Linked DNA regions of Homo sapiens: all the other regions are linked to region 4. Evidence: fine-mapped expression QTL. A gene starts in region 4. Each other region holds a variant in brackets. All regions are shown on one strand. Distances are from middle to middle.

Region 1 (6,227 bases), 69 kb before region 4:
AATAAAAAAAATAGTGGGAATTTATAAAATAGTGACGAGGCCGGTTACAGTGGCTCACGCCTGTAATCCCAGCACTTTGGGAGGCCAAGGCAGGCAGACCATTTGAGGTTAGGAGTTTGAGACCAGCCTGGCCAACATGGTGAAACCCCATCTCTACTAAAAATACAAAAATTAGCCAGGCATGGTGGCAGACGCCTGTAATCCCAGCTACTCAAGAAGCTGAGGCAGGAGAATCGCTTGAACCCAAGAGGTGGAGGTGGCGGTGAGCTGAGATCATGCCACTGCACTCCAGCTTGGGCGACAGACAAAAACTCCTTCTCAAAAAAAGAAAAAGAAGCTGGGCGCAGTGGCTCACGCCTGTAATCCCAGCACTTTGGGAGGCCAAGGCGGGCGGATCACGAGGTCAGGAGATTGAGACCACGGTGAAACCTCGTCTCTAATAAAAATACAAAAAAAAAAAAAAAAAAATTAGCCAGGCGCGGTGGCGGGCGCCTGTAGTCCCAGCTACTCAGGAGGCTGAGGCAGGAGAATGGCGTGAACCCGGGAAGCGGAGCTTGCAGTGAGCTGAGATTGCGCCGCTGCACTCCAGCCTGGGCGACAGAGTGAGACTCCGTCTTAAAAAAAAAAAAAAAAAAGAAAGAAAAAGAAAAAGAAATCGTGACAAGGACACTAACCACTGCCTGCTACCAGCAGGGGAGGCATCACTCATTGGTACTGTACCCACTCCCCTGGGCCTAGAGAGGGCATCAAGATCTTCTTGAGCCTTAGTAACAACCAGAGACGAGACAAACCTCTGTTGAGCAGGCCTGCTAGAGCCAAGGTCCTCCCCACCTTCTATGTGACCTTGGGCAAGCTACTTCAACTCTCTGGACTTTGATCCATGCCTCCTTTGGTGATCTAGGCATGAAGGTCCCCATCTGCCCAGGCAGCAGTCTTCACAGACAACCTTTACAGTTCCTGGCTGCCCTAAGGGTGCTGTGATGAAATGGCGGCTGGAAAGAGGAAGCCCTGCTATCCATATTCTTGTTTACATTCAGAAATGTCCCTGGGGTGCCCAGGTCTGTATCTGTCAAACCTGGAGGGTCGTTCGTATGGAATATCCCAAAGCCGAGGGCCTGCATGGCCTTCTTGGTGCCACCCTCAATGCCTTTGCGATGCTACAAGTGCAATCTCTGAGCTAGTGACCTGGACAGTGAACCCACCTGTCCTGGGATATCATCTTGCTCTTGTTATTAAAAGCACAGCGTTGCTCACACACGTGTGCAGGGGCATTTCCCTGAAGATGCGCATTGCGGCATTATTGCTGATGGCAAAAATGTAGACATCCTAAATGTCCCTAAGGAGCAGACTGGTTAAGCGCCTCTATATCTATACGACGAACCATTATTCAGCCATATTAAAATCAGGCAGCTGTCTTTGTTAGGTTTTGCTAAAGTCTTCCGAGAAATGTTAAGTGCCAAAAGCAAGGTGCAGACAGTGTGGATAGTGCACACCCATTTTATATATATACACGTAGACACAATCGTGTACACATCTGTGTGTGTATTCTCTGTAGTCGGAAGGTAAACAAGGAAGCAGTAACGGTAGTTGCCTCTGGACTTGGGTCTGGTGGGACAGAGAGTTAATTTTTATTGTAAGCTCTTGTACTTTTCTTTTTAACCGTATATGGATGTAGTCTGTTTTCCTTTAGGTTATTTATTTATTTATTTACTTATTTATTTGAGATGGAGTTTCTTTCTTGTTGCCCAGACTGGAGTGTAATGGCATGGTCTCAGCTCACTTCAAACTCCACCTCCTGGGTTCAAGCGATCCTCCTGCCTCAGCCTCCCAAGTAGCTGGGATTATAGGCACCCGCCACCATGGCCAGCTAATTTTTTTGTATTTTTAGTAGAGACAGGGTTTCACCATGTTGGCCAGGCTGGTCTTGATCTCCTGACCACAGGTGATCCGCCTGCCTCCGCATCCCAAAGTGTTGGGGTTACAGGCATGAGCCACCGCGCCAGGCCACCTTTACGTTTTTTAATCAGGGAAGTAAAGAAGGAAAGCATTGGCTTTGGAATCCCAATCTTAGATTTCAAGCCAAGCTTTGCCACATCAGAACTGTGTGGTTTTGGGCAAGCCTCAGTTTTTGCATATGTGAAATGGGGATAACAATAGCTCCTCCCTCTTGGGTTGTTGTGAAGATGAAAGGAGACAACGTGTAAGCGTTTAGCACAGGACCTGGCACCCAGTAAGCTATTTTTTGATGAGGCCCAAAAAGCTCACTGTCCATTTGACCACAGGACCCAGATATCTGACAGAATCATTAAGACCATTCCTTGAAGTGGGAGTGTTGGTAATGGTTTTAATATTTTATCACCTGGCAGCGTCCTGTGGAAAACACTCATTCGTAGCCTCTTCCTGTGCTTTGCCCAGCCTGCTATTAACAGTCCCCAAAGCCTTCGTAAAAAGTATGCTTCTCCATATGATTTCCCAAAACTCGTAGTCAATAGACAGGATTGATGTATAGCTGGGTGAACATCCTTTTCTCCTTGAGCTTTTACGGAGGATGTGAGGGAAAGGGCTCTTCTTATCAAATGAGGGAGAAAAGACTCTCAAAGCCATTATGTGTCTGACACCAATTCAATTACCCCACCCATGCCCTTTTCAGCTAAGCACTTCCTAAACTTCATTAGTGCTGCAGCAATGCTGCCAGCTGACACCGTACCCTTTACTGAAAAATGTTGTACACAGAAGAGGACAAATCTCCACTGCGGCAGGTCATTGCGGCATTCCTGCTTCCTGACTAAGGTGACCTGGGTCTTCCTCCCAGGCGGAGTGGAGGGTCCAGGTGAGGTTTCAGGGCTCAGTCGGAACCTGCCCCTGCCTGATTCCCATCACCCAGAGTTTCAAGTTATCTTTCTAAAAAAATCTTAAGGCCGGGTACGGTGGCTGACACCTGTAATCCCAGCACTTTGGGAGGCTAAGGAAGGCGAATCACTTGAGGTCAGGGGTTCGAGACCAGCCTGAGCAATATGGTGAAACCCCGTGTCTACCAAAAATACAAAAAAAATTAGCCAGGCATGGTAGCACATGTCTGTAGTCCCAGCTACTTGAGAGGCTGAGGCAGGAGGACCACTTGAGCCTGGGAAATGGAGGTTGCAGTAAGCCGAGATGACAGAGTGAGATTCCATCTCAAAAAATAAAAAATAGGACCGGGCGCAGTGGCTCACGCCTGTAATCCCAGCATTTTGGGAGGCTGAGGTGGGTGGATCACAAGATCAGGAGATCAAGACCATCCTGGCTAACACGGTGAAACCCCATCAGTACTAAAAATACAAAAACAAAATTAGCTGGGCGTGGTGGCGGGCGCCTGTAGTCCCAGCTACTTGGGAGGCTGAGTCAGGAGAATGGCGTAAACCTGGGAGGCGGAGCTTGCA[G/C]TGAGCCGAGATCGCACCACTGCACTCCAGCCTGGGAACAGAGCGAGACTCTGTCTCAAAAAAAAATAAAATAAAAAAATAATAATAATAATAATAAATAAATAAATAAATAATAAAAACACTTAAGACATGGAGTTGTGTATCCTACTTTGGCTTATTTCTCATAGGGAAAACAGCACTATGTTCTATCCCACTGCCCCAGCAGAGCCCAGCCTCCCCAACCATAAACGCTGGTGTACTTGTCTGTTGGACCAAAGATTATAAGAGGCTTGAGGAAAGGTGACGGTGCCTTACTCATGCATGCAGCATCCACCAATGCCCGACTGCCAGTGGGTGGTGAGTAGATACCAGGAGACTGAGTTCTTAGAGCTATGGTCCTGGACCCAAGGGAAGGATCTTGGAAGCCCTGTTGGTTATGGAGGATAGAGCTGCTTGCCTTTGAAAAGACCAATGGACTTGGACCATGAACATAAAGTTGCATTATCCATGATGGACTGGAGACCAGAGACCCTTCCCTTCCCAGGCACCTGTAAGTTGCTGGACTCACGTGTAGCCATGGGTGAAAAGAAGACCTGCCTCTTGAAATATGACTGAGATCAAATTCCTTGCCACCATGGCAGGTGGGAGCTTGGAGTACTGAGTAAGTGTCTGTACAACGATGGATGACCAGTACCAAGGCCTTGCAAGATCTTCAACCATCAAATGAAAATTCAACTTCTTTTCATAAGTTCCAAGGCAGAGGGTAGGCTCTCCCTATTTAGAAAACTGTTTATCCCTATTAGAAAGCAGAAATTCTTCCTTGTACCTCACATTATGCCCCTCCTCAACCCCTCCACTGGCTTCTCATCTCTGAATAAATATCCGAAGTTCTTATCTTGGCCTTCCAGTCCTAGGAGATCTGGCCCCCACTCACTCTCTGACCTCATCTCCTAACACGCTCCCCCTCTTTTATTCCCTTGAGCCACAATGTTCCCCTCGTGTGCCTCCTTGTTCCTGCCTCAGAATGTTTGCCCTTGCTGTTTCTTCTGCCTGAACGCTCAGCCCTGGGATCTCCGCATGGCTTTATCCCTCACTTCCTGCTAGTCTCTGCTCACAAGTCACCTCTTTAGAAAAGCCTTCCCGGATCACTTTATCTAACAGAGTATCCCTCTCTCAGCCTTGCCACCCCACACTTTTTGTTTACCATACTTTATTTCTCTCCAAAGTCCTTAGCTGACATATACATGATATAGTTATTACATTTGTCTGTAGTCTGTTTCCCCCAGATTTTATTTTACTGACTTTGGAATCCCCAATGCCTAGAACAGTATCTGGCACATAGTAAGGATTCAAGAAATATTTGTTGAATTAAATAAGTGAATTTATCCAGCAAATACAACTGCCCCAGGCCACCACACTCCATGGATATTCCCCTGAAGTGAGATTTGATTGGGCATGAGCTGCAGAAACAGGATAGAGTGCTGGAGCTGGAAGAGACCTTGGGATCACTGACTTCTGCCCTTTCACAGGGCTGCCGGGGCACACAGGGTGTAAACCTGCCGTGAGGCCTGGGGCTTTCCTGTGATCTTAAGGAGGCTGCCTTGTTGAGGGAGATGCCCAGCCCAGTGGCTCTGCGGTGTCTTCTCCAACATCACTGGGCGGGAGCACAAGGGAAATTCCTTAGGCAGTGAGAGCTACCCGAGAAAATAAACTTGGGAAACCCAGGTTCTGCGGATCTCTTACTTCTCAGGGCTGCAGGTAAGTTTCTGTGTGTTGCGATTCTCTGAGATGAAATGACTGTACATCTCATTTCTCAAACTTTTTTTTAAGCCTTTTTTCTGGTGAATCCTTTTATGGGATTTGTCTTTCCAGGGACACATTTGGGAAAACGCTGCTTTTTTGCCTTTTTACTGGCTGAAGCACCTTCTGAACAGGCATGGGGAAGCTACAGGGGTCAGTGGCTTTTGTTAGCTAAAGAACCCAGAGATGGGACTTTTCCTTTCCTTAAGGCCAGGGCTTGCCAGCTCCTCCCATCTTTTAGAGGAACCCCAAAGCATACCCTTTTCTACATTCTGCTACCCCCTGGCCCCCCCCAGACCTGAAATGGCTCCCTTCAGTCTCTCTTTTCTTCAGCCCCCCAACACTTGTCTCACCAGGCCCAGCTTTTCCTTCTGGATGTCGCTTGCCGCCCGCCTATCCTCCCACCTGCCTCCTGAGGCCTGGTTTGGAGGTTCTCCTCCTTCCAGGAGCCCAGCGCTGCCTCTAGGAGAGAGAATTATCCTGGAAACTCCCCCTTCTCCCTGCCTGACAGCAGCCCCTGCTGAACTCCACAGCCGCAGCTGGGAGCCATTTAAATAGCTGATGCAGGGTGGGCTGGTGGCTACTGCCTGTAATCCCACACTTTGGGAGGCTGAGGTGGGAGCACTGCTTCAGCCTAGGAGTTCAAAACCAGCCTGGGCACTATAGCAAGGACCCTGTCTCTAAAAAAGAAAAAAAATAGCTGATCTGCATCTGAAAGGAGATAAGCAGTTTCCTGAGCGGTATACTGTGCAGTATCCAGCTTCGTAAACTAAGGGCATACACACTGTAGACATGTCCATGCATATCTGCACAAGGAAAGAAAACGCATGGAGGTGAGGGTGTTGGTGGCTAACTCTGGGTGGTGGGATTTGGGGTGATTTTTTTCTCCTGCGTTGCTTAGCTGTGCTTTTAAATTTTATTTTTTCACGTATGTTTGCAACAACGAAAACTCATGATAAGTGTCAATAAATCGGCAGCTCTCGTTTGGTTCCTCATTAGCTGTGTAACCTCAAACAAAGTACTTAACCT
Region 2 (6,227 bases), 46 kb before region 4:
AGAAATCAACATAAAGTTGTCATACCATTTAAAAAATAGTAGCTTAAAGTCAGAAGATAGTTTTCCTCACACCACCTATACCTTGTGTTTCAAAAACACAAATGGTGAACACTGGCACTCCCCAAATCCACATTATGAACTGCATTCTGTATTAGGGGACCATGTCAGTTTTGATATCATAAGAAACATAATTATAGCAGTCATTAATGTGTGGACTGTTGGTCACCATAAACAATTCAATACTTCCACTTTTGAACAAGTTGCATCCAAAAGTTCATTTGTCAGTTGCATAGAACTTGAAATACATACATGCTCTCTAAAAGTAAAGCTACATCTGGTAGGTTGGTTTCTTGGCCTGATTATAAATCACTTTCATGTATCAAGCAGCTAAACTTGTAGCATTAGCTGTACTAGCTTGAGTTCAGGAAGCTGGAACACTGCAAGTCGGAAGCGAGGAGAAAGGAATGTTGAAATGAGCAGTTTGCTTTGGTTATTTTACCACTTCCAGCACTCAACTCTCATCTACCAAGGTGAGCTTGCCCTAAAAAGTGAGCTTGCTCTAAAAACTGAATTTCCTCAGGAACCTACCAATTTTCTCCAATGCACTCCTTAGGCCAAAGTTACAGACCTTCCTTTCACTTACATCACAAAGAGCTGCTAATCTCCCCTAGGCGTCAGTGTGAGTCTCTGGATTTCCTTTTAATACAAATGGATGTGTAAATGACTGATGGTGCTTTAACCATCCCAGAACTGGCCTTTTTAATGAAAAGGTGTTTATCATCCATTTGAACTGAAGATCCATTTGGGGGAGGTGGAGCAGAGGTCAGCACACTGGCAAAAGATGGTCTCTAAGTGGTTCCGGCTTCCCAGGGCTGCTTCCTGTGTCACTTCTGAACCCATCTGCTAAAAGCCCTAGTTTTCCCCAGGAAGAGGAGGAAAGAAGGGCATTGCAGGTGTGGGCCCAGGAGAGTGGTTCATACTTTGAAGCCTGACTGTCCTCTTAGCCCCTAAAACAGGAGTATGAGAGTTGTGGGGGAAGAGTTGGAAAACAAGCAAACCCTCAGGCTCCATTCGGTGGTCCAGAGTGGGGCTCAAGGAAGCCTGCTTTTTTTTTTTTTTTTTTTTTTTTAAGATGGAGTCTCGCTCTGTCACCCAGGCTGGAGTGCAGTGGCTGATCCCAGCTCACTGTAACCTCCACCTCCTGGGTTCAAGCCATTCTCCTGCCTCAGCCTCCTGAGTAGGAATAGTTGGAATTACAGGCGACCGCCACCATGCCCGGTTTGTACTTTTAGTAGAGACAGGGTTTTGTCGTGTTGATCAGGCTGGTCTCGAACTCCTGACCTCAGGTGATCCCCCACTGCCTTGGCCTCCCAAAGTGCTGGGATTACAGGCGTGAGCCACCGCGCCCCGCCTAAGAGCCTGCATTTTTAACAAAAGGAACATGTGATTCTGACCCCATACTGAAAAAGACATTTGAAGGACAAGTAATTTGTTTTAAAAATACAGATAATCATACTTTAGCTACATCACTTCCTGTGGGATGTTTTCATTTTAGAGACTCCTTTAGAATTCCAAGTTGTGTAAGCAGGGAACTTAGAGGTTGAATATTATCTGCTTGAATTCCACCTAAACTACTAAGTAAAAGCAAAACAAAGAGGACAGCCTCCTTAATTGATTCTTTGAATCAAGGTCCTTTAAATTGTCACCATAGTTTAGGTTCCACTCCTTCCTAATAGCTCTTAAATAAAAATTAATTAATGCCAGAAGCTTTCAAATGTAGATCTAAGTTAGCAGGGAAAAAAAAAACACATCTGGAGGTAAATTGTAGGTTTCCAATAAAGGGGTCAAATGTGTATTATCAATTTAACAACTGAGCCTCATTTAGGCCCAAATTTCTTACTCTTCAAACACTAAGTTGTCACAAAATATAAAAATATAAGAATATATACATGTAAACATAAGAAAATATGAAAATATAAGAATTAACAACTCAGGAAACCCTTAGATTTTTATATATTATTATTATTGAGATGGAGTCTCGCTCTGTTGCCCAGGCTGGAGTGCAGTGGCATGATGTTGGCTCACTGCAGCCTCTGTCTCCTGGGTTTAAGCAATTCTCCTGCCTCAGCCTCCTGAGTAGCTGGGATTACAGGTATGCGCCACCACACCTAATTTTTTGTATTTTTAGTGGAGACAGGTTTTGCTATGTTGGCCAGGCTGGTCTCAAACTCCTGACCTCAAGTGATCCGCCTGCCTCGACCTCCCAAATTGTTGGGATTACACAATGCCCAGCAAGATTTGGTTTTCTAAAGTAAAATAGATCGCTTAATTTTCTTGTGCACAGACACCTCGAAAAAAATCTCAACCCCTACAGAACATCAAGGCACTCACATAAACATACTCATTTAAAATGATCCAATTAATATTGTGGCAGACTTTTAGAATTTCCCTAATTTCTTAAAACCTCCTTTGATATTAATGCATTTGCATTCACATTTTTATGATTACATTTTCTGTTTTTTGAGATGGAGTTTCACTCTTGTTGCCCAGGCTGCAGTGCAATGGCACAATTTCGGCTCACCACAACCTCTGCCTCCCGGGTTCAAGCGATTCTCCTGCCTCAGCTTCCCAAGTAGCTGGGATTACGGACTTGTGCCACCACACCTGGCTAATCTTGTATTTTTTAATAGAGACGGGGTTTCTGCATGTCGGTCAGGCTGGTCTCGAACTCCGACCTCAGGTTACTGGCCCCCCTCAGCCTCCCAAAGTGGTGAGATTACAGGCCTGAGCCACCGTGCCCGGTCGTAATTACACTTTTATGCACAAAAAGTATAATTTTAAAAATCCTTATCCTTGAGAGTTGAGGCCCTTTTTCAAACCCATATTTAAGGAAGAACAAATATTTTACTCACTGGAGTTTTCTTTTTACCGATTTTTTAAAGCATTCATCAGGCAAAAGCTCCACTTGCTGTGAATGGCAAAGGGTACAGTTCTTAAAGGCTACCCTGGGCATAAGAATCACTCTGTAATACCTTTGTGATTGCTTTCTGCACTTGCCAAACCCAAACCTTTCAACTGGTCCATGAAAATCTACTCAACATTCTCTAATTCTTCTATTCCTACGTCAAATGTTTCATGGAAAATTATATGCCAAGTCTTTTCCAGTCTTTCCTTTTTTCCTCTGGTGGGTGGGAGGAGTTGAGGGGGTAGATATGAAAGAGACAGGAACTCCATTCTGCCAAAAGGAAGAGATAAATCATTTGAATTCCCCCTACTCAGATATTTTACATCTGCAGATAACGCAAACTGAGACACTTATAATAGGCAACAAGACTTTTTGTCACTGCCAGTCTAGATAATTTAAACAAAAGTAACTATGGTTCAATAGCTTCTTTCTTCCTAATTTCAGATGTTAAACAATACAAAGAAAGATGCTTTAGAATGTTTTTAAAATGTTATATTAATGTGAACATCACTTGAAATTTTTGTAATAGCTGCCTATTTTCACCTCCTCTAAATCAAGTTTATTTCTATTCTATGACTAAAAGTTACTTTCAATATAATGGTTAAAGTCACTAATTTTAGCCTTTTAGTTATTCACACATGCAAACATGCTTTCCCAGGTACGTCCCCTTACCTCCTCCACTTACCTCTGATGTAGCATTTTTCAATCTTCAAAGAGGTCAGAGATTTTTGAGCCAGAGGAAAAAAGTATCCCAGTATTGTGTGTAGTTGGCCAATTAGTCCAAGGTTAGAGAGCATGTTAAATATTGAGCTTAGCCGGCCGCGGTGGCT[C/T]ACGCCTGTAATCCTAGCACTTTGGGAGGCTGAGGCGGGTGGATCATCTGAGGTCGGGAGTTCGAGACCAGCCTGACCAACATGGAGAAACCCTCTCTACTAAAAATACAAAATTAGCCGGGCGTGGTGGCGCATGCCTGTAATCCCAGTTACTTGGGAGGCTGAGGCAGGAGAATCGCTTGAACCCGGGAGGTGGAGGCTGCGGTGAGCCAAGATCGCTCCATTGCACTCCAGCTGGGCAACAAGAGTGAAACTCCGTCTCAAAAGAAAGAAAAAATCGAGTTTAGATTAATCCTCGAGTTTCTGGTTCACTTTAGTTGGCTACCCTCTTTGATGGTTCTAAAATTAATACAGTTAATAAACTCACTCAATTGTATAATGGTCAAAGTTTGTGGGTGGAGGAAAAAAATGAAGTGCACTGAGAGACATTCATTCCATCAAAGGCACTATGCAGTGCCTGGTATTTTCTTCCTCCATTACATATGGAGATAGCTGTTATCATATTCTTCTTCCGCAACTCAGAAGAAACTAGATAAAACACCAGAGACAACCCTTACGTTCGCTGTCTGGGACTCCGGCCCTGAAGCGGGCAATGAGGTTTGCACATACAAGTCCACGAAGAAGGAAAGGCAAAAATACTCTCTCTACTCTCCAGCCCTCATCCTCAAGGCTAGTATAAAACAAGAAAAGGTCAGTTAAATGTATTTTCATCCTTCTTTTATTTGTTAAAAATAATATGCCTAAAAGTCTGCAGATGAGCTAATATGTCCTTGAAAGGGGGCATGTTACATACAGGTCTCTTTAGCATTTCTAATTCTGTGAAAGCCACCTTAAATCTTTTGGGAGACAAAACAGTTTGTTGGAAGAAAACAGCCTCTGATGTAGCTATAAATCGCTATTCTATTTTCTTATGTATTTATAAAATCATACCAGAAATAATGAGTTGTTTTGTCAATAATAGAACACTGACATGAACTTGACCTAACAACTAGCATAAACTGTCAATTCATCTTGCATTAACAAGAAAATGAAACAAGAAATAACTATTAGAAAGAAATGACAAAATTCAAATTGACTTTGAAAAAATCTGATTTTATTTTCTCAATCAAAATGAAGTATTTCATGTTAATTTAGACTGTTTAGCTTTCCACTGATATCTCAAGATACTTTCCAGATATTAACAGTACTCAGAACTGTGTAAAAGTTAACCACCAAAACCATGTTTTAAAGAAAAAAGTTTAAATGTAAGACTAATGTCTTGGGGACTTTACTAAATGTATTTCTAAAAAAACCCTTCTCAAATGTAGAAGTATTGGCAATTCTAATTTAAAAATTTTAAATTTTTAATTATTGGAAATTTAAGTAGCAATAGTTTCAAGAGCTAAGAATCAGATTGCTTTTTAAAACAGAATTTTTTTTTTTTCCTGAGGGACTCATACTTGACAACTCCAGTTAAACATAATACTCCACCCAAATCCCAAATTTAAATGCATTATGTCACCCTGGAATAGTAAAATTATAAAATGGTATTTCTAAATTATAATATATATACATAATGCACCATTTTAACTGTCACATTTACCAGCAGAATTATGAAATCAAAAACAAATTCTACATTCAAGGGACAAACGATAAATGCTCTTTCATTGTTTTAAGAGTCCATTCCATTCTTTGTTGTTTTCTACTCCCATATTTTAAAATTATGACCAAAGGAGCCTGAAGGCCAAGTCAATCCCATTTCCCTGAACCCAACTGCCAGTAGGTACGGGCCCTACATACGCGTCCTTTAACAAGCCCCGTTCTCAAAAGGCTGGGGGTATTTATATAAGAACTTATTCCAAAGTGACTCTAAGATCCATGTTCCCAAGATCTAGTACGGGCTATTCAGGGTTCTGAGGCATGTCCAGCATGCAGGCAAACTTATCTGTTCAAATTGAGGTAAAACAGACAAAAAACACTTAATATTAACAGAAGCTACATAATTAAAACTAACCTTCTGCTGCTTATTTAAGCTAATGATGTATTCTTACCAAACAGAGACCCTCAAGTCAATCATTTCTTTTGATTTTAGTTACCACCCCCAAATTAAGCCTCTTCTTTCAAAGCTATTATTAGTTAAAAAAAAGTTTTAAAATGAAGAAAAATATTTTTTCCAGAACTTGTATTTTGTAATTAGTGTGATGCAATTTCTTTTTATTTTTCAAACTTAGAAATAACTCATGTATGGTACTATTTGGTATTTTTTTCAGATACCAAGGAATACCGACAGGATTCATAAATAGGATTTTCTGACACTGGCAGGAAAGTCTGCTAACGTTTACAAAATACCAAAGACTCTTCTTTCAAGCTTCAAAGATGGCTGAGAATTAACAGTTATGATTAGTTTTTCAGTACAAATAAAAAAATTAAATCTTGATTTTTTTGGCCAACAT
Region 3 (6,227 bases), 33 kb before region 4:
TGAGAATTTACCATAATTATGAAGGCTAGATTCGATTTCTGATCATCTTCTACCAGGTTTATAGCTTGTTATGAGTCAATTGCTATTTTTATTAATTTCTATTACTATCCTGGCTCCAAAGCCATCCCATCAAAATTAATTAGGTGGCTATTTAACTCAGGGTTACACAAATAAATGCTTGCTGTACAAAATGCTTCTGGGTGAATTCCTCTATAACCTGAGTGTAGAGAAGGGATTTCTAACTATGACTCAAGCTCTAGATGTAATAAGACTATAAATCTTTTTATATGACTAAATAAAAACAAACTTTTGCATGGCCAAAACACTAAGAGCAATAGACAAATGGCAAACAGAGAGAGTATCTGTGAAAGATATCAGAAAGCTAAAAGAAAACTTTTCAAAACTGAAAAAAAAAAAAACCCAAAACTCCAAAATCTACAAAAAGCCATTAACAATTTGCCAAAAAAAAAAATTTAAAATGTCCCTTAAGGCTGGGCGTGGTGGCTCACGTCTGCAATTCCAGCTACTTGGGAGGCTGAGGCAGGAGAATCACTCCACCCAGGTTGCAGTGAGCCGAGACTGCACCACTGCACTCCAGCCTGGCGACAGAGCGAGACTCTATCTCAAACAAACAAACAAGTCCCTTAAACATATAAAAATATGTTTTATATATATATATATGTTTTTTTTTTAGGAACTTTCTTTTGTGGCGGTGGGGAGAGACAGGGTCTCACTCTGTCACCCAGGCTGGAGTGCAGTGACACAATCATGGCTCACTGCAGCCTCTACCTCTCAAGCTCAAGCAATCCTCCCACTTCAGCCTTCTGAGTAGCTAGGACTACAGGAGTACACCACCACCATACCTGGCTAATCTTTTTGAAAAAAATTTATGTAAAGACAGGATCTCCATATGTTGCCCAGGCTGGTCTTAAACTCCTAGGCTTAAGCAAACCTCCCACCTCAGCCTCCAAAGTGCTGCGATTACAGCCAGAAGCCACCACCCCTGGTTTGACTTCACTCTTAATGACAGAAATAAAAAGTAAAATTACACTGAAATAATTTCTCACTCATCAGATCGGTGGAAAAGGATAAACGATACAATTGCCAGAGAGGGAAATTTGGCAATATCTAACAAAAATATACATGCATTTACATCAAACTAAGAAGTTTCTCTCAGCACTTTGGTAGGCTGAGGTGGGGTGGATCACTTGAGGCCAGGAGTTCGAGACCAGCCTGGTCAATACGGCAAAACCCCATCTCTACTAAAAAATACAAAAAAAAAAAAAAAAATTCTGGGCATGGTGGTACATGCCTGTAATCTCAGCTACTTGGGAGGCTGAGGCAGGAGAATCGCTTGAAAACGGGAGGCAGAGGTTGCAGTGAGCCAAGATTGCACCACTACACTTCAGCCTGGGTGAGAGAGTGACATTCCGTCTCAAAAAACAAACAACAACAAAAGAAGTTTCTGCACAGCAAAGGAATTAATCAACAAAGTGAAGATATAACCTATAGAATGTGAGAATATATTTGCAAATCAGACATCTGATAAGTGGTTAATATCCAAAATATGTAAGGAACTCAAATCTCAAATGACTCAATAGCAAGAAAGCAAATAACCCAATTAATAAATGGGCAAAGGACCTGAATAGACATTTCTCAAAAGACATACAAATGGAAAAAATGCTAAGCATCCCTAATCATCAGGGAAATAAATGCAAATTAAACCACAATGAGATATCACTTCACATCTGTTGGAATGGCTATTATCAAAAAGAGGAAAGGTAACGAATACTGGCGAGGATGTGGAGAAAAGGAAACCCTTGTACACTGCTGGTGGGAGTGTGAATTAGTACAGCTATTACAGAAAACAGTATGGAGGTTCCTCGGAAAGTTAAAAATAGAACTACCATATGATCCAGCAATTCCACTACTGGGTGTATCTCCAAAGGATCTGAAATCAGCATGACTATGTAAGAGAGTATCTTTATCCTTAGGAAACACCAACTAGTAAAGAACTGATGCATTTAATCTACCCTCAAACGGTTCAGAAAAAACAGAATGAAAAAGCAAACATGAAGAACATTAGAATTAGTAAAATGGTAAATCCAGATAAAGGATACAGATAAGTTTTCTGCATTTTTCTTGCAACCTTTCCGTAAGTCTGAAATTATTTCAAGTAAGTTTATAAACTTAGTCATTCTATTTAATTCCATCTATTTCTGATAAATAACTTTAAAACTATTTTTATGATTTTTCTGATAAATAACTTTGAAATCACCACTTCTAATGTACCTGGTATCAATGTCAGCTGCCTGAATTGTGTTAAAAAGCAATTCAGCAACACCAACTCCTTCAACATTGATCAAGTGAGGCTGAAATAAAGCTTCTGGTGCTTCAAATCTCTCTCCCCCAACTTTGATGATACGTCCATCTGGGAGCTAGAAACCAAGAATAATCAGGTACTAATCAGCAAAAGATTAAAATTTCCCAGTGTTCTCCGGAACACTAGTACTTATAAATACATCTGTTCTGTAACCAAAATCATTACCAACAACAATTTTTCCTAAAATATATTTGGGGAAAAAAAGGTAAATTAAATAGATTTAGGTAACTGCTCTTATCACATTCTGTTTTGCTTTTAAAAATGTTATGCCAGGCTGGGCGTGGTGGCTCACGTCTGTAATCCCAGCACTTTGGGAGGCTGAGCTGGGCGGATCACAAGGTCAGGAGATTGAGACCATCCTGACTAACACAATGAAACCCTGTCTCTACTAAAAATACAAAAAATTAGCCGGGTGTGGTGGCGGGCGCCTATAGTCCCAGCTACTCGGGGAGGCTGAGGCAGGAGAATGGCGTGAACCCGGGAGGCAGAGCTTGCAGTGAGCCAAGATCACGCCACTGCACTCCAGCAGGGGCAATAGAGCGAGACTCCATCTCAAAAAAAAAAAAAAAAAAGGTATGCCACGCCCCCAAATATCAGGAATTTCTTGGAGAAATCACTGATGCATGAGTGCATGATGTTTGCAGCAAAGCAGAAACAAGCATCACTGACCAACCATTGTATTTTGATTATTGCTGGTATGTGTTACTACAGTTTTATAATTTTAACATATTTGTGATTTTATGGATATTTCTGCTATGTAGAACAGACATGTTAAAACACTGATTGACTGATTGATTGAGACAGAGTTTCTCTTGTCGCCCAGGCTGGAGTGCAATGGCACGATCTCGGCTCACTGCAACCTCTGTCTCCTAGGTTCAAGCAATTCTCCTGCCTCAGCCTCCTGAGTAGCTCGGATTACAGGCATGTGCCACCACGCCAGCATATTTTTGTATTTTTAGTAAAGACGGGGTTTCATCATGTTGACCAGGCGGTCTTGAACTCCTGGCCTCAGGTGATCTGCTCGCCTCAACCTCCCAAAGTGTTGGGATTACAAGCATGAACCACTGCGCCTAGCCACATTAAACATTTTAAATAATTTTATTTCATCAAATAATTACTCTGTGAAACTATTATTTTGCCAAAATACTTTATAACATGTGTACCACTTCTATCAAATCATTTAATCCAAAAAATGTCTTATGATCAAAAAAGTTTACAGAACACTGGTCTAGACTATTTTTATTAGGCAATTCTGTTGTATCCTACTAGGTCCTAATACATTTTAAGTAACTGATAAATATAATTTCAATTTAAGCAAATAAGATTTAAACAAATCAGGTATCATATTATGACTTTGTACAAAAAAATCTTGTCAGTCACACATCATGTTCATATTTAATTAAATGAGAAGTGTTAAGTAGAAACTTCCTCTCATAACACCTCACAATTCACTGGATTGTCCTAAGTAATAAGCACGCCCATGTATGCTAGCATTTGACACATTTCC[A/G]TGAGATACCAGAATTAATTTTACATTAACAAGTCTAACAGTACATTTATAATTTAATTTTTTTTTGAGACAGAGTCTCGCTCTGTTGCCCAGGCTGGAGTGTAGTGGCTTGATCGTGGCTCAGTGCAACCTCTGCCTACTGGGTTCAAATGATTCTCATACCTCAGCCCCCCAAGTAGCTGAGATTACAGGCATGTGCCACCACGCCTGGCTAATTTTTGTATTTTTAGTAGAGACAGAGTTTCTGCATGTTGGCTGGGCTGGTCTCGAGCTCCTGGCCTCAAGTGATCTGCCTGGCTTGGCCTCCCAAAAGTGCTGGGATTACAGGCATGAGCCACCATGCCTGGCCCTACAATACATATATATTTTTTTTGAGATAGGGTCTTCATCTGTTGTCCAGGCTAGAGGGCAGTGGTGTGATCATGGCTCACTGCAGCCTCAATCTCCCAGATTCAAGGGATTCTCCCACCTCAGCCTCCCAAGTAGCTGGCACTACAGATGCACACTACTATGGCTGGCTAATTTTATTTTTTGTAGAGACGGGGGTCTTGCTTTGTTACTCAGACTGGTCTTGAACTCCTGGGCTCAAATGATCCTCCCATCTTGGCCTCCCAAATTGCTGGGATTATGGGGAAGAGCCACCGCGCCTGGCCAATTACAATGATTGTTTAGATTCCAGCTTTGGTCCCAGCTACCTAGGAGGCTGAGGTGGGAGGATCACCTAACCCTGGGAGATTGAGACTGAAGTGAGCCGAGATCATGCCACTGCACTGCAGCCTGAGCAACAGAGTGAGGAAACCCTGTCTCAAAACAGAAAGAAAAAAAAAAGGTTACCAAAACTTATACCCTTAAAAAAACCACCTCCACCTTCAGGTGGGTTCACATGAAATCACCCAAAATATCTGGAAAAACTTCACACAGCAGATCTTATTAGCAAAACCTCCTGCCTTAAGCACTTGAAGCCTGATAGTGTGGCTTCTCTCCATTCTCTGGCTGCTGGCCAGCATGGGGTCAAGTTTTCTAATCACCTTAATGAACTGTTAAAACTGCAGGCATCCCATTTCTTTGCACCAAATCTTATCCTGTTCTGTATTTGTCCACCCATGTCCCTCCTCACTTATTCATCAGCTTATTACTTTATACTTGTGTATATGTGTGTGTGTGCATATATATATCAAATATATATATGGATTTTGTTTTGTTTTTGAGACAGGGTCTCGCTCCTTCACCCAGGCTGGAGTGCAGTGGTGCAATCCTAGCTCTCTGCCTCAAAACTTGAGCCTTGAACTCCTGGGCTCAAGCAATCTTCCCACCTCAACCTCTCAACTAGCTAGGACTACAGGCACGTGCCACTACGCCTGGCAAATTTTTGTATTTTTTTTGTAGAGACAGGGTCTCATTATATTGCCCAGGCTGGCCATGAACTCCTGGCCTCAAGTGATCCTCGTATCTCAGCCTCCCAAAGTGCTGGGATTACCGGTGTGAGCCACTACACCCAGCCTATTTGTATATATTTTTGTAGCCTACCTCAAATTCTTTGAGAAAAGAGAGAAGGAAGAAATAAAACATGTTTTACATTCCTAGTTTGCTTATCTTTTGCCCTGTGCCAGCCACTTTCTTCCAAAATAGTCAGGTAGATGGAAAATCAGACAACTAGAGAAACTGTCAAGAAGACTTCAGGAAGGAATCTCCAGAGCAAATCTGGAGATGATTAAGTTACAAAATGGGTTTACTCCTAGAAGAAAACCTAGCCAATACCATTCAGGACATAGGCATGGGCAAAGACTTCATGACTAAAACACCAAAAGCAATTGCAACAAAAGCCAAAATTGACAAATGGGTTCTAATTAAACTAAAGAGCTTCTTGCATAGCAAAAGAAACTATCATCAGAGTGAACAGGCAACCTACAGAATGGGAAAAAATTTTTGCAATCTATCCATCTGACAAAGCCTTAATAACCAGAATCTACAAGGAACTTAAACAAATTTACCAGAAAAAGACAAATAACCCCATGAAAAAGTGGGCAAAGGATACGAACAGACACTTTTCAAAAGAAGACATTTATGTGGCCAATAAACATAAGAAAAAAAGCTCATCATCGCTGGTCATTAGAGAAATACAAATCAAAACCACAAAATCTCATGCCAGTTAGAATGGCGATCCTTAAAAAGTCAGGAAACAACAGATGCTGGAGAGGATATGGAGAAATAGGAACGCTTTTACACTGTTGGTGGGAGTGTAAATTAGTTCAACCATTGTGGAAGACAATGTGGTGATTCCTCAAGGATCTAGAACTAGAAATACCATTTGACCCAGCGATCCCATTACTGGGTATA
Region 4 (6,227 bases):
TGCAGAGAGCCGAGATCACGCCATCGCTCTCCAGCCTGGGCAACAGAGCTAGATCCTGTGTCCAAAAAAAAAAAAAAAAAAAAAAAAATCAGCTTCGGTTAACATTCCCATTCTAATTTAATATTTAAAAACTCATATATACTACAAATACAGGGCTCATTACCTTGAACCCCTAAAAGAATTCATTAAAATATAACTGGCTTGACTTTCTAAAAAGAGTATCTGACACAATCACAAAACAAAAAATTTTAAATTCAATTTTTAAAGTTTTTTATTTATTTAGAGGCCAATTTGAAACTATAGTGGAAATCAGGCTAATACTTTTTTAAAAAGCACATTTAACTGAATTTTAGCCGCACATGTAACATGCGTTTATGGTTAATTTAGTTTAAATATAGTTTAATAATACTTGCTTTGTTCAAATAAAGAACATTTTTCCAATAATTCAGAAAGGTCATGAAGTCCTCTCCATCTTCCCTCACTCCCTTATCCTCTGTCTCATAGGTAACCATTATGAACATTTCTTATGTATCCCTCCAAAACTTTCATATGCGGATACAAGTTTGTGGACATACATCTTTAATAAGGAACACACACTTAAACTGAATCATTCTAAAACCTTTTTCAACTTAAAATCTTAGACGTTTCCATAGCAGTGGATCTGCCTTTTTAAAAATATTACATTCTTAAAAACCGTCACATTAATATGTTTTGTTTTTCTTTTTTTTTTTTTTTTTTTTTGAGACGGAGTCTTGCTCTGTCGCCCAGGCTGGAGTGGTGCGATCTCGGCTCACTGCAACCTCCGCCTACCGGGTTCAAGCGATTCTCCTGCCTCAGCCTACCGAGTAGCTGGGATTACAGACGCCCACCACCATGCCCGGCTAATTTTTGTATTTTTAGTAGAGACGGGGTTTCACTATGTTGGCCAGCCTGGTCTCAAACTCCTGACTTCAGGTGATCCGCCCGCCTAGACCTCCCAAAGTGCTGGGATTACAGGCATGAGCCACCGCGCCTGGCCTCAATGTACGTTAACACTCTTTTTACTCTAGTCCATTTTTAACACAGTTCAGATGAAGCTACCATAATTATTGCTTGTAAAATTGTGTAACAAATCTAATCAAGGGCAGTATTATGGCAGTAAATACCAGCTCTTTTCCCCCTCAACAATTCAGATTCCAAAGTGTTTTGTTCAAGTAAAATGAACTTTAATTCATACATCATATTTATGGGAGGGAGGGGAGAAAACTCACAAAATGTTGCAACATCAAAATGGTTAGAAATCACTATAGAAGTCATCCAGAATAAATAATATTTCCATCTTCTAATTTGCTGACTTTGCTACCCAAAATACATTTTTTTTTAATCTGGCAAGAGGGAGGTCTGAATGAAACAATTTTTTTTTTTTATAATTGAGACGGAGTTTCACTCTTGTCGCCCAGGCTGGAGTGCAGTGGCGCAATCTCGGCTCACTGCAACCTCCGCTTCCTGGCTTCAAGGGATTCTCCTGCCTCAGCCTCCCAAGTAGCTGGGATTACAGGCAAGCACCACCACGGCCGGCTAATTTTTGTATTTTTAGTAGAGACCGGGGTTTCACCACGTTGGCTGGGCTGGTCTCGAACTCCTAACCTCTGGTGATCTGCCCGCCTGGGCCTCCCAAAGTGCTGGGATTACAGAAACAATTTTCAAATAGTTTCTAAATCAGTGCTTTAGTCAGATTTTACAATTTTTGAATCTTAAAGGCTAACATTACCTGTATACTGAAACGAAGGGAAAAAAGGGGGCTGGGGGTGGGATAATCAACACTAATTAACTTCCCCTAAGGCTAGTGGAATTAACACTTGAGTCTTGCGGGATCCTAGGTCACCCAAAACCACTCAATGGAACATGCTGGTCTCCGTGGGCCTACTCCTGGGCCAAATACTAGTATGTAAAACAAAAAGTGAACGATGCGCTGCCGATCTGGACCCCTTCCCTCGAAAAAACTAATAAAAAGCCCAACAAACACAGCGAAAGGGCTGAGGTCCACACTCCATGACAGCACTTCCCTTTTTTTTTTTTTTTTTTTAAGTAAACCCGCTTCCTGCTTCTCGTTTGGTGTATCTTCAACTATACAGGAAGAGGAAGGCCTCTAGGTCTTTCTCCTTTTTACAAACCGGTGGCCCTGGGGAAAAGAGCCCTTCTCGGAACACACAAACCGAGCCTTTTACGCTTCCGTCCGCTTTAGCCCAATTGCCCCCGCATTAGCGCGGAGCAGGTCCCTGCCGGGCGGTCAGTAGGCTCCATGTCCAGTGCCGGTCTCGCCCGCCGCCCCCACCCGGAAGGGTGAGGGGGTGGCAGGCTAAATGGGTGGCAGGCTCAAGGGAGACCAGGGAACGGCCGGCTCGCTCCCACGCCCGCGGAGGTGGGAGGCACCGCCCCGCGCCCCTTCGCCCCGAGGGCCCGGAGGTGCAGCCCTGGGGGCCGAGGGCCCGTGCGCCAGCTGCTCGTCCCCGCCGGCGTCTGTGGCCGCCAAGGCCTCCTCGCGCGGCCCTTACCCCGGTGCCGTTGTCGCACACCACCACCTTCCTGCCCTGGCTGTCCATCGTCCGCCCAGGGAAGAGCCGCTGCAGCCGCACAACCTACAGCCACCGCCGCCCGGCCGTTTTCTCTTCTTCCTCTTGCGTCTTCCCGGCCCCTCCTTCGGCCCAACTTTTTTCCCCCGACCGGAAGCCGCCGCCGGGCTCCGCCCGTCATTTAGCTGAATGCCTGCACGAAAAGGGTGGGACGGGCAGGCAGCGCGACTGGCAGCGGTGAGCTCCAATAAAAGATGGAGGAGCGTCGAGGCCCCTCCCGCAGCTCCGCTTCCGGCTCGGCTGTCACGGTCGCTGCCCACCCGGGTTCTTCGCTGCTTCTAGTTCCGGGCGCTTTGCCGGGCGTTAATGGCGGCCAACATCGCCGGTGCTGCGGCTTTCTCCCTAAAGTGTCACAGGAGCTAAGGGCGCTGCTTAACGAACTGCAGAAGACGCAGGCAGGTGAAGGACACCGGTTCTGCTGCGGCAGTGGAATGTGGCGGAGAAGCTGGCGGGTAGGGCGGGGAGCAAGCCTGGAGGTCCTGGCGGACCCCACCATTCGACAGGGCTTGGTGTGTTATTGCTTCTAGGCCTTTTCAGCGGACAGAACTGGGATGGATACACACATGCTTATTTGAAATCATGCGTTTGTTCCATACTCCAATGTCAGCCCACCCCTTCTTTGCCCAAGTTGCTCTATGGTCAAGTGAGCGAGAGCAGGTGCCTGCATTTCCAGCCTCGTGGCTCACCGCCTCCTTCCAGTAGTCCCATGTTGCTTCACACCTCTTAAGTACATGTACTTCTGTGAACCCAGAGCCTTGGCTTTGAAATCAGACAACCCCAGTTTCAAACGTGGCGCTGCCACTCACGAGTTTTGTGATTTTGGCATACCCCTGTCTGCATGGGGATAATAACTTCTATCTCCATAGGTGTGGTGAGGATAAAAGTCTATGCATGGAGGAAATGTTCATTCAGTGGTAGCTATTTCTAATTCTGTTCTTCTGGACCTATGATTCTATCTACGATGCCTCATTTTTTTTCCTTTTTAATCAATTGGCAAACTTGTGCTCTGAGACCCAGCTTGTTACATCTCTGATGACAGCTGATATCCTCAGGATATTCCGTACTTCCTTTCTCCCTATTACTTTACTATGAATATATGAATAACATTGTGCTTATTGCATGCAACAAATATTTATTAGATGAATGACATTAAAATTCACCTTTAAAATGCCATCCTTTATGAGAGGTGAGAAATAGAACTTTTCCTTCGACATGGCTGTACATGTTCAACAACTAGAATAAAACAGTCATCATGAACCCTCAATCCAGTATTCTTTTTATAATATAGCTGCCTGTCAGTTTTCACTGTTCTTTTATTAGACCAGTGATTTTCAAACCTTTTTAAAGGCATACAGTGCTTTATTCAAATCTAATCTTATATGGAACCCTCAACACATAAATATTAAGATAAAAATAAAGCTGCCATTGTTGCAATTAGAAGTTTGAGAGGTTAGAATAGGTAGGAAGTCTCGGAGGAACATTTCTTCGTTTTACCTGCTTTAACAGTCAGAGAAGTACCTCAGCCAGCAGAAAAATTTATTTGTTCATAAATTCCTTGAGTATAGAGTCCGTATCTTATTTTTGTGGCCTCCAATGCTAGTGCTGTGCAGTTTTCTTGAAAGTGCATTTTATTGGTCTCAGCAAATTGAACTCAAGCATTTCTGTGTTCTTTTACTTTTCCTCTTTGTGGAATTAAGGGGATTGCTAATTTGTATTTTTAAAGAAAGAACATTATTCCGGGCGCGGTGGCTCACGCCTGTAATCCCAGCACTTGGGGAGGCCAAGGAGGGCAAATCACCTGAGATCAGGAGTTCAAGACAAGGCTGACCAACATGGCAAAACCCCGTCTCTACTAAAAATACAAAAATTAGCTGGGCGTGTTGGCACGCGCCTGTAATCCCAGCCACTCAGGAAGCTGAGGCAGGAGAATCGCTTGAACCCGGGAAGCAGAGGTTGCAGTGACAGAGATCGTGCCACTGCACTCCAGCCTGGTGAGAGCAAGACTCTGTCTCAAAAAAAAAAAAAAAAAATTGGCAAGTTTGGCCCTAAAATTTATATGAAATGAAAAGGAACCAGAATAAAAGGATTTCGAAACAGAAAAAGATGGAGAACTTCCACTACCTGAATTCAAAACTTATTATAAAGCTACAGTAATGAAGACTGTAATACTGGCATAGAGGCAGATATATCGATCAATGGAATCAAATAGTCCACAAATAAACCTTTACATTATGGTCAGTTGATTTTCAACAATGGTGCTAAAACAATCCATGGGGAAAGGGTAATCTTTTCAATGAATGATGTGGGAGGGAAAAAAAAGAACTTTGATTCTTACCTCACATCACACATAAAAATTGATTTAAGTGGATCATAGACCTAAATATAAAAGCTAAAACTATAAATTTCAGAAGAAAAAGAGGAAAATCTTTTGATATTAAGTTAAGCAAAGTTTGCTTAGATATGACGCTAAAATCGTGATCTATAAAAGAAAAAATTGATAGTTGACATAATAGAAATTTAAAGCTTTTAGTTCATGTATTGAAACAAAAAATCTAGACTGGGACAATGGCTCACATCTGTAATCCCAGCACTTTGGGAGACCAAGGTGGGTGGATCGCTTGAGCTCAGGAGTTCAAGACCAGCCTAGGCCAGATGGTGAAACCCCATCTCTACAAAAAATACAAAAATTAGCTGTGCATATAGTCCCAGCTACTTGGGAGGCAGAGGTGGGAAGATGGTTTGAGCCCAGGAGGCAGAATTTGCAGTGAGCTGAGATTGCGCTACTACGCTACAGCCTGGGTGACAGCCAGACCCTATCTAAAAAAAAAAAAAAAAAAAAAAGAAGAAGAAAACAAAAACAAAAAATCTTGGTCTGTCTTAGGCAACAAGCAATTAAAAAAAAAGTAGAAAATAAAGCAAAAGGGCCGGGCGCAGTGGCTCACGCCTGTAATTCCAGCACTTTGGGAGACTGAGGCGAGTGGATCACCTGAGGTCAGGAGTTTGAGACCAGCCTCGCCAACATGGTGAAACCCCATCTCTACTAAATACAAAAATTAGCTGGGCGTGGTGGCGGGCACCTGCAATCCCAGCTACTTGGGAGGCTGAGGCAGGAGAATTGCTTAAATCCAGGAGGCAAAGGTTGCAGTGAGCCAAAATCATGCCACTGCACTCCAGCCTGGGCAACAGAGCATAACTCCATCTCAAAAAAAAAAAAAAAAAAGAAAAAGAAAAAGAAAAGCCATGAACTAGAAGAAAATATTTGAATAGATATTTTACCAAAGAAGATTTATGAATGGCAAATAAGTACATAAAAAGATATTCATCATCATTAATCATTAGAGAAATGCACATTGAAAGCATAATAAGATAACACTTAATACCCACTAGAATGGCTATAATCAGAAAAATAGAAAACAAGTTTTGGCGGGGCTAGGTGGCTCACACCTGTAATCCCAACACTTTGGGAAGCCAAGGCGAGTGGCTCACTTCAGGTCAGGAGTTTGAGACCAGCCTGACCCAACATGGTGAAACCCCGTCTCTACTAAAAAATACAAAAATTAGCCGGGCGTGGTGGCAGGTGCCTGTAATCCCTGCTACTTGGGAGGCTCAGGCAGG
Region 5 (6,227 bases), 62 kb before region 4:
GGCGCTGAGGACAACATAAATCTGCTCTTTGGGCCACACCCATTTCTTCTCCAAGCAGATGTGGTAGCCGGGAGCCAAGTCTTGGGGGCTCAGCGCTGGGCTGAGAAGGGGACGAGCTCCAGGCCCGGTGAGTTGGAAGTCTCGGAGAAAGGCTGACTGGCTTCACCTCGCCTCCGCCGCCCAGGGGCTGTGTGAGCAGGCTTTGGCAGCGATTTCTCCAGCAGGAAGGGATGAAGCCCTGACCAGGTTCAGAGGCAGCGGGTCAGGACCGTGCCTGGGCTCAGTCCCGCCCTGGCTCCTTCGCTTCTCGCCGCTGTGAGCCTGGGCAGTGGCTTCGCTGCTCTGGGCCCCACTTTCCTCAAGCGTTAGCAGGACAGTGGCACTCTATTTTGGAATCTCATGAGAATAAAATGAGATGATGCATGGACAACCTGCACATAGCAAGTGCTAATAATTACCATCTCTTAAGTTGGTTTGAAGGTCCAAAGCCAGTCCCTAATTGAGTAGCCTCCGGTAGCTCAAAGTACATGGCTGGCTTAAGGCCTGGGATCCTTTCCCAGTGCTAACCGAGCTGCCATAAATGTAACTCATGGAAAGCAAGCTCCAGGTCTGACATGGGCGGGGCCCATCCTGCTGAGATACAGTACAGCCTCAAGTGGATTTATTAACCCAAAGAAACTAGCAGCACAACTTGTGTGCTGACACCTGCTAGTCACTTCATACCTCACGATCCCCTTTTCACGGAACAGGACATCCATCTAGGCACAGAGAGGATAAGGTTCTGCCCAAAGCCACACAGCATGATAAATGGCGGAACTTGGGTCTAAATACTGCATCAGAAGACAGTATCTCTGCTCACCCCTATTTTGTTTTGCAACCTCTGGAATTTTCCATTCCATTTGTTTAACGCCACTTATAATGAAGGCCTCCTCATGCATCTTGAGAAGGCATGTGTTCAGTGGTACAGTATACAAACTCACTTCTCCCACATGCTGGCCGCACTAAGTGCCACACCTTGAAATAATTCTGAGACATTCTTCTTAGGATATTTGTGGCATAAGGAGGAAGCCCTTGGTGCCTTCGTGCAGCTGTGTTCCTCTAGGATAGCAATTGTGATAAAGACCCAGGGCCGGCTGGTGACTGAAACGGGAGTGGTTTCTACCAAATCCTGTGAGCAATTTAGACTCTCTTGGGTATTCCCTAAACAGTCATCATCAGACTGGGAGGAGAGAGCAAATATTACCTGAAATGAGGCCGCTTGGTGGAAGACATTGGAGAAACACAGCTGGAAAGATGGACGCTCTGCGGTTCAGAAACACTGGAGTTTCACATTTGACCTCTGGCTTTCATGTGAGATGAAAGGACAGAACACTTTTCCAAAGTTATTTTCTCTTTACATGAGTTCAAGGGCTGTGGTGAAAGTGAGGAATCCAAAGTCTACCCAGACTACTTCCTCTTATTTTGATTTATGCCAGTGGTTTATAACTTTTTATAATAAATATTTTGTAAACTCCCTTTAACATCCCAGATGAAATTCATGGATTACATAACCTCTCTAAACACATTTTTTTTTTTTTTTGAGACGGAGTTTCAATCTTGCTGCCCAGACTGGAGTGCAGTGGGGCGATCTCGGCTCACCGGAACTTCCGCCTCCTGGGTTCAAGCAATTCTATTGCCTCAGCCTCCTGAGTAGCTGGGATTACAGGCATGTGCCACCATGCCCAGCTAATTTTGTATTTTTAGTAGAGATGGTGTTTCTCCATGTTGGTCAGGCTGGTCTCAAACTCCCAACCTCACGTGATCCGCCTGCCTCAGCCTCCCAAAGTGCTAGGATTACAGGGGTGAGCCACTGTGCCGGGCCACACATTTTTAAAATTAGTTGTAATACCCTAACTCTAACACAGGGTTTCTCAACCTCAACACTATTGACATTTTGGGCCACTTTACTCTTGTGAGGGGGCTGTCCTGTGCATTGTGGGATGTTCAGCAGCATCCCAGGCCTCTCCCCACTAGATTCAAGAAGCACCTCACCCCCAGTTCTGGCAACGAAAAGTGAATGTCCCAGGGCAAGGTGGGACAAAATACCCCCAGCTGAGAATCACTTCTTTAACATAAAGGATAGATTTTTAAAAATGTGTAATAAAATAACATGTACTTTAAAATATAAATGCTCAGGTGTGGCTGCACAGCAGGACACACTGAAGCCACCAGATGCCTGCACCTACTGATAATGAATGGGTTTGGATTTAAGGGAAATAAGAAGATCAGAAGCTATTTTCATAAGAAGAACAAAAAAATAAAAGAACATACCGGGCGTGGTGGCTCACGCCTGTAATCCCAGCACTTTGGGAGGCTTGAATCCGGGAGGCAGAGGTTGCAGTGAGCCGAGATCACGCCACTACACTCCAGCCTGGGCGACAGAGTGAGACTCTGTCTCAAAAAAAAAAAAAAAAAAAAAGCAGAGGTATGAATGGACATTAGAATAAAAAATAAAAATTAGTGTTAGGCTAAGTAATAATAGAGAACACTTATCTGTATATAAAAGAAAGAATAAAATAACGTTATTTAAAATAGAGATACAGGTTGAGCATCCCTAGTCTGAAAATCCAAAACCCAAAATGCTCCAAAATCTGAATCTTTTTGAGTGCTGACATGATGCCACCATGGGAAATTCCACACCTGACCTCATGTGATGGGTCACAGTCAAAACACAGTCAAAATGTTGTTTTTCATGGACAAAATTATGTAAAATATTATATAAAATTACCTTCAGCCTATCTATATAAGGTGTATGTGAAACATAAATGCATTTCGTGTTTAGACTTGGGTCGCATTCCCCAAAATATCTTATTATATACATGCTAATATCCCAAAATTCAGAAACTCTGAAACATTTCTCATCCCAGGCATTTCAGAAAAGGGATACTCAATCTGTAATATACTAAAACAAGCTACAGACTCAAAGTCATGAATGATCTGGGGCTTATTTACAAAATACAGCATCACTGTGGTTCCTCGATTTTATGACCTGGGATAAGGGTATGTTTTGGAGAGAGTCTCTAGCACTTAAAATGAACTTGGGGGCTGCATCCTGTGAGAAACAAAGGACAGTGAGGATGGATTTGAAAGAGGCCACATCATAGTCAATAGTAATTCTTTTTTCTTTTCTTTTTTGAGACAGAGTCTCGCTCTGTTGCCCAGGCTAGAGTGCAGTGATGCAATCTCGGCTCACTGCAACCTCTGCCTCCCGGACTCAAGCGTTCAAGTGATTCTCCTGCCTCAGCCTCCCTAGTAGCTGCGACTACAGGCGTCCACCACCACACCCAGGTGATTTTTTGTATTTTTAGTAGAGACAGGGTTTTACCGTGTTGGCCAGGCGGGTCTCGAACTCCTGACCTCAAGTGATCCACCCACCTCGGCCTCCCAAAATGCTGGGATTATAGGCGTGAGCCACCGTGCCCAGCCCACAGTCAATAATAAATTAATTGTACATTTTAAAATAACTTAAAGAGTGTAACTGGATTGTTTGTAACTCAAAGGATGAATGCTTGAAGGGATGGATACCCCATTCTCTATGATGTGCTTATTTCACATTGCACGCCTGTGTCAAAACATCTCAGGCCAGGCGCCGTGGTTCACACCTGCAATCCAAGCACTTTGGGAGAGTCCAAGGTGGGCGCATCACCACAGCTCAGGAGTTTGAGACCAGCCTGGCTAACATGGCAAAGCCCCATTTCCACAAAAAAAACAAACAAACAAA[A/C]AAAAAATTAACCGGGCACAGTGGCATGAACCTGTTAATCCCAGCTACTCAGGAGACTGAGGCAGGAGAATTGCTTGAGCCCAGGAGGTGGAGGTTGCAGTGAGCTGAGATCGTGCCACTGCACTCCAGCCACTGCCCTCAGTGACGGAGTGAAACCTTGCCTCAAAAAAAGACAAAAAAAAAAAAAAAAAAAACCTATGACATCCTTGCATTTCATGAGTCTGCTCTTTTATATTTGGCTCAAGATTTGTTTAAATAAATCTCAAATCTGTTTCTTATTTTCAGTTGGTTTCATTGTACAGTAAACTCCCTACTGTACTGAAATTCTTTTCAGTAAAATTTATAATCAGAAATGCTCAATACATAGAGCAAGCAACCAGCACAGTATGAGTAAATTAATCATTTCGGGGCAAGACGTTTCTTCCATTTAAGTTTCTCTCTATAGGCCAGGCGCAGCGGCCCGCGCCTGTAATCCCAGCTCTTTGGGAGGCTGAAGGGGGTGGATCACTTGAGGTCAGGAGTTCGAGACCAGCCTGGCCAACATGGTGAAACCTCGTCTCTACTAAAAATATAAAATTAGCTGGGTGTGGTGGTGCAGGCCTGTATGTAATCCCAGCTACTAGGGAGGCTGAGGCAGGAGAATCGTTTGAACCTGGGAGGCAGAGGTTGAAATGAGCTGGGATCACGCCACTGCACTCCAGCCTGGGCGACAGAATGAGAGTCCATCTCAAAAAAAAAAAGTTTCTCTCTATGGAATGGTCTTCTAAATTACTGGGCTTTTCAAGTAACTCCTTTCAAGTTATTTTCAGGATCATTGTGTTCTAATTATTGATGATTTACATTTGTAGTGAGTTTAGGCTAGGGGAACATCTGAAAGTCATGTGGGGCATGAGAGTTCTTTGTTGTCTGGGACTCTCCGACACATTGCAGGACATCTAGCTTCCTCCCCATCCCCAAATGCCAACGGCAGAGTCAACAAAAAAAGCACACCTGCCAATTTTCAAAACACCCCCTTTGGGCCACCACAGCTCTTGCTAAGTGCTTCAAGCTTACGTGACCACACCCCAGATGTGGAGGCTGCCCCCCAAGACCACATTGCCAAGGCGCTCACTTTGGGTGGACACAGACTCTTTGAGCGGATGCAGACTCGTTCCCTCCCAAGGGATGGCAAATGGGGCACAATATAGGTATTTCTATTATCTCCTCTACTATTATTTCTACTACTTCTAACTTCTATGCAATTTTGATTTGCCATAAATCACTTAATGAAGTCCTCAATGTATGGTATTAGCAAGCAAAATAGGTAAGGTTTGTTGAGTTCCCTGCGTGTCAGACCCTGGGTGTTGGGTCTATTATTTCATTCAAATCTCACAATAACCCTATGAGGTAGATACTATTATTAGCCCCCATTTTATAGATGAGAAGACTGAGGCGAGAAGACAGAGAGGAGAATTTAGGGAAGTTGTCCAAAATGGGCCAAATAGTGAGCGGCAGAATCAGGATTTGAACCCACGCTCCTACTCTACTTGCCATATTGCTTCCCCAGAACTGGCTTCTTTGGATTAAATTTAAGGAAAAGATGTAAATGGTAGCAAAACATATTTTATAAAAATTTTATTTATACCCAAAGTTTATCTGAACTCAGTATACATTCAGCACAGTCCCCATACCACCTGTCCTACAGCCCGGTGTATTTGGAGAGGATGGAGTGGAGGAAGGGTTGTTTGGAATCTTGCCTTTGAGGCCCTGAAAGATACCCCATTATGAAAGAAATACTGAGCTAAATTTACCAAACCCAAAATGGCAAATCGGTTTCATTTCCAGTGTCAGCTTTGACTGATTGGTCATGGCTGCCTAGAGGTGAGATGGATTTTTATGGCAAGTTGGAGGTCAGTGTCTTCATCAATTAGTAATGTCTGCCCTGTCAAGGGAAGAGAGCATGTGGTGGCCCCCATGTTATGAATTTATTGTCCCTGCTTCCCTAGACAGGAGGTTGGAATTTTACACATTAGGAAAGATTTCAAAAATAGAAATAAAAATGAAAAGGAATTTTTGGTGGCAAATTAGTAAATACTAAATTCATCAGAAAACTTAGCTCCTCTGAATATCCTTCTCATGTAGTCATAGAAACTTTAAGGTAGGAAGGACCTTCAAGATTATTTAAACTTTTTCACTTTAGAAGAGTTTTCAAAAATAGGAATAGAAACAAAAAGGAATTTCTGGTGGTGAATTCTAAGTTCATCAGAAAACTCAGTTCCTCAGAATATTCCATTCATGGATTCATAGAAACTTAAATCTAGCAAGGTTATTTAAGATTATTTAGGTCTGTGGTTCTCACATTTGGTTAAGATCAGAATCCTCTGGGGGAATTTTTGAAAAATTCTGATACCTGTGTTCTGATTCAAGTGGTCTGGGGATGGGTCCAGGAATTAGAATGTTTCAAAAAATTTCCCTAATGATTCTAATG

Direction of the effects. Alleles are on the strand shown, and positions count from the first base shown. SD is a standard deviation of normalised expression in the study named. Not every link is listed here.
For the expression in putamen of the gene that starts at base 2,661 in region 4, allele G in region 1 goes with a higher level than allele C (small effect, 0.18 SD a copy in GTEx).
For the expression in hippocampus of the gene that starts at base 2,661 in region 4, G is the high allele of the variant in region 3 and A is the other (small effect, 0.22 SD a copy in GTEx).
For the expression in memory regulatory T cells of the gene that starts at base 2,661 in region 4, C is the low allele of the variant in region 5 and A is the other (moderate effect, 0.54 SD a copy in Schmiedel 2018).

What was found. PIP is the estimated chance that this variant, and not a neighbour inherited with it, causes the effect. A credible set is the group of variants that fine-mapping cannot tell apart.
Region 1: its variant is the best candidate, but not a certain one, in a credible set for the expression of ACTR2 in putamen (GTEx, PIP 0.53).
Region 2: its variant is the best candidate, but not a certain one, in a credible set for the expression of ACTR2 in whole blood (INTERVAL, PIP 0.81).
Region 3: its variant is the best candidate, but not a certain one, in a credible set for the expression of ACTR2 in hippocampus (GTEx, PIP 0.50).
Region 5: its variant is the best candidate, but not a certain one, in a credible set for the expression of ACTR2 in memory regulatory T cells (Schmiedel 2018, PIP 0.66).

Annotation. Positions count from the first base shown.
Region 1 is chr2:65,293,061-65,299,287 of GRCh38, reverse strand. It overlaps LOC124907781 (a long non-coding RNA gene), which reads left to right and starts at 3,505. Exons shown (of 2, transcript XR_007086472.1): 1 at 3,505-6,227. RefSeq lists a silencer at 3,316-3,498. The variant G/C (reference allele first, on the strand shown) is at 3,420.
Region 2 is chr2:65,269,893-65,276,119 of GRCh38, reverse strand. It overlaps ACTR2 (actin related protein 2), which reads right to left. Exons shown (of 9, transcript NM_005722.4): 9 at 4,867-6,227. Among named protein-coding and RNA genes, the nearest start is that of ACTR2, 45 kb to the right of the region's middle. RefSeq lists an enhancer at 360-1,027. The variant C/T (reference allele first, on the strand shown) is at 3,796.
Region 3 is chr2:65,257,458-65,263,684 of GRCh38, reverse strand. It overlaps ACTR2 (actin related protein 2), which reads right to left. Exons shown (of 9, transcript NM_005722.4): 7 at 2,293-2,438. Among named protein-coding and RNA genes, the nearest start is that of ACTR2, 33 kb to the right of the region's middle. The variant A/G (reference allele first, on the strand shown) is at 3,891.
Region 4 is chr2:65,224,265-65,230,491 of GRCh38, reverse strand. It overlaps ACTR2 (actin related protein 2), which reads right to left and starts at 2,661. Exons shown (of 9, transcript NM_005722.4): 1 at 2,535-2,661. The coding sequence starts at 2,582. It overlaps LOC124907779 (a long non-coding RNA gene), which reads left to right and starts at 2,893. Exons shown (of 2, transcript XR_007086461.1): 1 at 2,893-3,011. RefSeq lists enhancers at 1,730-1,819, 1,892-2,780, 2,781-3,670 and a silencer at 2,320-2,509.
Region 5 is chr2:65,286,544-65,292,770 of GRCh38, reverse strand. It overlaps LOC124907781 (a long non-coding RNA gene), which reads left to right. Exons shown (of 2, transcript XR_007086472.1): 2 at 1-1,520. Among named protein-coding and RNA genes, the nearest start is that of ACTR2, 62 kb to the right of the region's middle. The variant A/C (reference allele first, on the strand shown) is at 3,761.